Linked DNA regions of Homo sapiens: region 2 is linked to region 1. The links come from fine-mapping of genetic effects on gene expression. A gene starts in region 1. The other region holds a variant in brackets. All regions are shown on one strand. Distances are between the middles of the regions. Region 1 holds the start of RABAC1 (Rab acceptor 1). Region 2 has its middle 8.8 kb from the start of ERFL.

Region 1 (2,898 bases):
CCAACATGGTGAAACCCCATCTTTACTAAAAATACAAAAAATTAGCTGGGCATAGTGGCGGGCGCCTGTAATCCCAGCTACTCGGGAGGCTGAGGCAGGAGAATCGCTTGAACCCAGGAGGAGGTGGAGGTTGCAGTGAGCCAAGATTGTGCCACTGCACTCCAGCCCTGGCGACAGAGTGAGACTCCGTCTCAAAAAAAAAAAAAAGTCACTTGAACCTGGGCATGGTGGCTCACACCTGTAATCCCAATACTTGGGAAGGCCAGGCAGAAGGATCGCTTGAGTCCAGGAGTTTGAGACCTACTGGGCCAACACAGCAAAATCCCTTATCTACTTAAAAAAATTTTCAAAAAAAAAAAGGTCACCTGGTTATCCCATATAGATATTTTCCTTCCAGCCCCACCCAGCTGCTTTGGAAAATTAGGATCCCAGTCTGCTTAAGGGAGCCCAGGCTTCCCTATACTTCCACACACATTTCTTGAGGCCCTGTTCTGGTTCACCCCATTAGAATTCAATTAGAATTCCAGCCCTGTGGGCCAGGCACAATGGCTCACGCCTGTAATCCCAGCACTTTGAGAGGCTGAGACAGGAAGATCACGAGGTCAGGAGTACGAGACCAGCCTGGCCAACATGGTGAAACCCCGTCTCTACTAAAAAAATACAAAAATTAGCTGGGCGTGGTGGCGGGCGCCTGTAATCCCAGCTACTCTGGAGGCTGAGGCAGGAGAATCGCTTGAACCCAGGAGGCAGAGGTTGCAGTGAGCCGAGATTGCGCCATTGCACTCCAGCCTGGGCAACAAGAGCGAGACTCCATTTCAAAAAAGCCCACAAAACTTCTCAACCTTTTGTCTTTCCCAACTTCACTCCCTTCTCTCCAAAGGTGTGTGTGGCGGGGTCGGAGGTGTCCCTAGCCCCAACTCATTCATCTTTGGGACTCCACAAGGTGGGGCAGGGGGCAACCTCAGATACCCCTCCAGCAACCATGGCCCCCTCACTAGCCTCAATCTCTTGAGGAAGGAATCAATTCCCACAAATTATCTAAATCTTTCTACTCAAAATGTAGTCCATGGACCAGGGGCATCAGCATCACCTGGGAACTCAGAAATGGAAATTATGGGCTCCACCCCAGACTTGCTGAATGAAAACATCTGGGCTAGGGCCCAGGAATCTGTTTTAGCAAGCCCTCCAGGTGTTTTTTTATGCCCTCTAGAGTCAGAAGGACAGCTCTGCACGGTCCCCATTGTGCCTTCCCTGGGAGAGTACACAACGCCCGCTTCTGCCGTTAGAGTTCCCATAACGCCCTCGCTCCTGACAGCCCACATGCACCCTCCTGAAACTACAACTCCTATAATACCCAGAGGCGCGCGCCGTCACTTTCTGGGATTATATCTCCCAAGGTGTTTTGCGAGTCAGACCGCCATCATAGCGCCCATCCTCTTAGTCACCGTCAGGACTACAACTCCCACAATACTCGGCGGCAGAACTACAGTCCCCAGCTGCTCCGGGGCTGCGCCACGTCGACTCCGCTGGGTGGGGCCGGCGTCGGGCGGGGCCGGCGGGGTCTTCAGGGTACCGGGCTGGTTACAGCAGCTCTACCCCTCACGACGCAGACATGGCAGCGCAGAAGGACCAGCAGAAAGATGCCGAGGCGGAAGGGCTGAGCGGCACGTGAGCGAGCTGGCTCTAGGCCCTCGGACCAGAGACCCGGGAGTCCGGGCCCCCGGCCCCCTCCTCCCTCCTCCCTCGAGAGCCTGGAGTCCCAGCCCCGAGCCGCAGAAGTGTTGGCCCCGGTCTCCTCTAATGGGACCCTGGAGTCTGGGCCCCTAGTCCCCTCCCTGCCTGCTGTACAGGAATCTGGGGTCCCGGGAGGGAGTCCAGGCACCCTTAGTCCCCTTCTTTTGCGGGGGTCTGGGGCTCCATCCCGGTCCACCACTGACCCGGCCCCACCCCCCGCAGGACCCTGCTGCCGAAGCTGATTCCCTCCGGTGCAGGCCGGGAGTGGCTGGAGCGGCGCCGCGCGACCATCCGGCCCTGGAGCACCTTCGTGGACCAGCAGCGCTTCTCACGGCCCCGCAACCTGGGAGAGCTGTGCCAGCGCCTCGTACGCAACGTGGAGTACTACCAGAGCAACTATGTGTTCGTGTTCCTGGGCCTCATCCTGTACTGTGTGTGAGTGCCTCCCGGGCCCCGCACCCGCACTAGCCCCGACCGGCTGGACCCCTCCTCTCGCCGCTCAGGCCCCGCCCTTCACCGCCCGGTCCCTCCTCTCACCGCCCAGGGCCCTCTTCTCACCGCCCAGGCCCCGCCCCCAAGGATTGGCTCTGCTAGACTACCTTGTCACCAAAGGGCCAGGTCCCCTACCCCACCATCACCCTGGCCAGGATGCAGTGTGACTAAATGTCACCTGGCCCTCCCTGGTCTCCAGGATGTAGCTTGCCGCCCGCCGGTGGAGAAGGCCAGGGCCGTCGGGCTGGCCCAGCCCCAGCTGTCTAACCGCTGCCTCCCTGCACTCCTCCTCCAGGGTGACGTCCCCTATGTTGCTGGTGGCTCTGGCTGTCTTTTTCGGCGCCTGTTACATTCTCTATCTGCGCACCTTGGAGTCCAAGCTTGTGCTCTTTGGTGAGAAACCCCCTGCCCAGATGAATCCTTGGTCCCTCAAATCTTGGTCTTTTGGAATGCAGACAGACCTCAGACCCCAAATCCAAGTCCTTCAAAACCCAAGTCCGCCCAAGCCTAGATGTACACTAGATCCCCCAAACCTGATCCCTTAAAATCTCAGACACAACCGATCCTTCCATCGAGTCTCAGCCCCCTCAAATTGCTATTCCTCAAACCCAGGATCCACCTGGCTGCTGTGCCTTAAACCTACTCCTTTTCAAACCACATGACTCCTCCCCT
Region 2 (2,898 bases), 22 kb after region 1:
GGGTCTGAGGGAGGAGGCTGCTGGGGGCCTGGACTCCTGGGTCTGGGAGAGGAAGGTCTGGGGGGCCTGGACTCCTGGGTCTGAGGAAGGAAGGGCTGGGGGGCCTGGACTCCTGGGTCTGAGGGAGGAGGGGCTGGGGGCCTGGACTCCTGGGTCTGAGGGAGGAGGGGCTGGGGGCCTGGACTCCTGGGTCTGAGGGAGGAGGGGCTGGGGGCCTGGACTCCTGGGTCTGAGGGAGGAGAGGCTGGGGGCATGGACTCCTGGGTCTGAGGGAGGAGAGGCTGGGGCCTGGGCTCATGAGACTGAGGGAGGAGGCTGCTGGGGGCCTGGACTCCTGGGTCTGAGGGAGGAGGCTGCAGGGGTGCCTGGACTCCTGGGTCTGAGGGAAGAGACTGCTGGGGGCTTGGATTCGTGAGCCTAATGGAGGAGGGGCTGGGAGCCTGGACTCGTAGGTCTTGGGGGAAGAGGAAGCTGGGGTTTTAGACTCCTGGGTCTGAGGGAGGAGGGGCTGGGGCCTGAAATCTGGGGCCTGGGGGAAGGAGGAGGCTGGGAGCCTCCACTCCTGGGCTCTAGGCTGGGAGCTTGGCTCTGGGGGGGCTGGGTTGGGAGGCCCCTGATTGATTTCTGTTTACCGGCTGTCCCCGCAGGCGGAAGAGCGAATCGCGCCCCATCCATCAACAGGCTCGCAGCCTCCCTAATAAAAACATTTTACTCCTAAATGATCTCGAACTAATTAACTCAAAGTGTTAATTAAAGTTTGCGCAGACAGCATTGTCATCAGGGAGGGCGGTGGATCCATCTTCCTGAGAAAGAGACAGGGTTTGGGGGGGCTCCCATCCCCCTCACTGCTGAGCCCTGTCCACTGCTCTGCCCTGTGGCCTCCAACCTCCCCTCGGGGGCTCTCCGCGTCTGTCCCCACTCTCAAGCTCTTCTCTGAGCTCTTCACTGGTCCGTCTCTCTCATCTCTCACTGTTAGCCCGTCTGAGTTTCTGTGTCTCCGTCTCTTGCCTCTCTTGCCAGAATGCTGTGTCCCCAGGGTTCCCACCTCCGGTTCATGTGGTGCTTTTATGTGTCTATG[C/T]GTTGGGGTTATGTGTGTGGACCACGTATGTGTGTCAGAGTTTGTATGTGGACACACATGTATGTCAGAGGAGATGCATGGTGGCTTGTGTGTGCACATGTGTGTTTGAACCCGGGGTGTATGTGTTAGAGTTTGCATGGGCACAGGCATATATGAGCCCAGAGCTATGTGTGTGTCTGAACATGAGGTCCATGCAGACAGGCAGGCTGTGGGACCCGACCAGGTGTTTGAGGACCTCTAGGGGCCCCTTGCTTGGCAGGCCAGGCAGGAGCAGGGGCCATAGGTGCACTGGGTGGGCAAGGGACCAAGCTCAAGTTCACTGGGCCCCTCTCCCCTTCCCCCCTCTCCTATAGTCCACCGCCGGCAGGGCCAGGGAGCCCAGGACAGGCCACCAGGCCATGGGCACTGGTGGGGTGGCTGGCTGGGCGGCCCCAGTGTGAGCTCATACATCAGGGCTGACAGGCTCCAAAAGCCCCGGAATTAAAACCTAAATCGAATATTGATCACCCACTCCGGCCGTGGCGCCCACAACGGCCCCCCCAGCTCCCTCGCGCTTGCTCCCTGCTCCCTGGTTCTCAGGCGTCACCGCTGTCCTGTCTCTCCGTCTTTCTTGCCTCCTCTCTCCCCAGCTTCTCCGCACCCAGGCCTTCCTCTAGTGGCCCCAGCAGGTGCCCCCTCAGGCAGAGACAGAGACAGAGGCTGAAAGAGACACAGGGACATGCGGATGCAGAAAAGAGACCCAGACACAGAAATAGTTCAACACAGACCTGCAGACAGACCCAGAGCAGGCAACACACAGACAGACAGACAGACACGGCACACAGTCATCCACAGACTTACACACAGGGAGTCACACACAGCCACACCCCAAAAGTCACACTGATACAGACACACACCACACAAAAATGCTGCCCACAGGACGCACATACAGAAAGTGCCAGACAGGCAGACAGACATACCCACAAGCCCACAGAGTTACCGTCACACGCAGGGTCACCGAGACCTGAGTGTAGTGACACAGGGACAATCGCAAAGCAAGTTACACCAACATGGGCAGAGCGAGACAGAAGATACACAGTCATATATGCAGGCAGACACAGAGACACACTGAGCTCCCAAGTGGCAGGGAACACACTCCCTGTCTGCCCATTTGCACTGATCCTGACACAGCGGCCACCTCCCTCTGACTCAGCCCCCAGACACCACCCCCACTCTTGGATCAAGAACCCAGAAAGCCCCACTGCACGGGGAGGAGGCTCCCAGACCTCATCCCCCAACTCTGAGCAGCCCCTTCCATGTCCCAAAGGTCCAGGCTGGTCCAGGAAGGTAACTGGAGAGATGGACCCCAGAGAGGGCAAGGATTCCCCAGCCAGAGAGGGACAGGGACAGGGCTAAGGTCATGCTGTCCAGGGAAGGCCGAGGGATCCAGGGTTCTAGTCTCTGAGACCACCTGTAGGATTGAGGCGAGACAGTGGGAAGAACTTCCCCAGACCACTAGGGCTGGGGCTCCCCAGAGTGAGCAGGGGTGCTGCCCCACCCCCACCCCCACCCTGAGGCTTCCCGGCTGGGGCGGGCAGCCTTGGAGGCGGGCGGTGGCGGCTGCCTGGGAGAAGATGAATCTTTCATGAGTGATTTGCGGCCGCCTCTTCTCGTCCCGTGTTGTTTAATGTTTCAATTTGGGCGAAAGCAAAACATTCAATCAGGCGGATTAAGTGCGTAATGCGTCTCATCGCTCAATCTGTCGCCTCCGCCGGGCAGCCCGCCGGGTGGGGGGGGAGCCTGGGAGGGGGTGGCGGGCAGAGACCCCGGCCAGGGGAGAC

The links. PIP is the estimated chance that this variant, and not a neighbour inherited with it, causes the effect.
Region 2: its variant is fine-mapped to the expression of RABAC1 in whole blood (INTERVAL, PIP above 0.99).

What each region holds. Positions count from the first base shown.
Region 1 is chr19:41,958,007-41,960,904 of GRCh38, reverse strand. RABAC1 (Rab acceptor 1) reads left to right here and starts at 1,584. Exons shown (of 5, transcript NM_006423.3): 1 at 1,584-1,668; 2 at 1,957-2,169; 3 at 2,522-2,619. The coding sequence starts at 1,613. RefSeq lists an enhancer at 1,207-1,496 and silencers at 1,607-1,856, 2,307-2,376.
Region 2 is chr19:41,935,824-41,938,721 of GRCh38, reverse strand. No RefSeq gene overlaps it. Among named protein-coding and RNA genes, the nearest start is that of ERFL, 8.8 kb to the right of the region's middle. RefSeq lists enhancers at 956-1,025, 1,046-1,115. The variant C/T (reference allele first, on the strand shown) is at 1,079.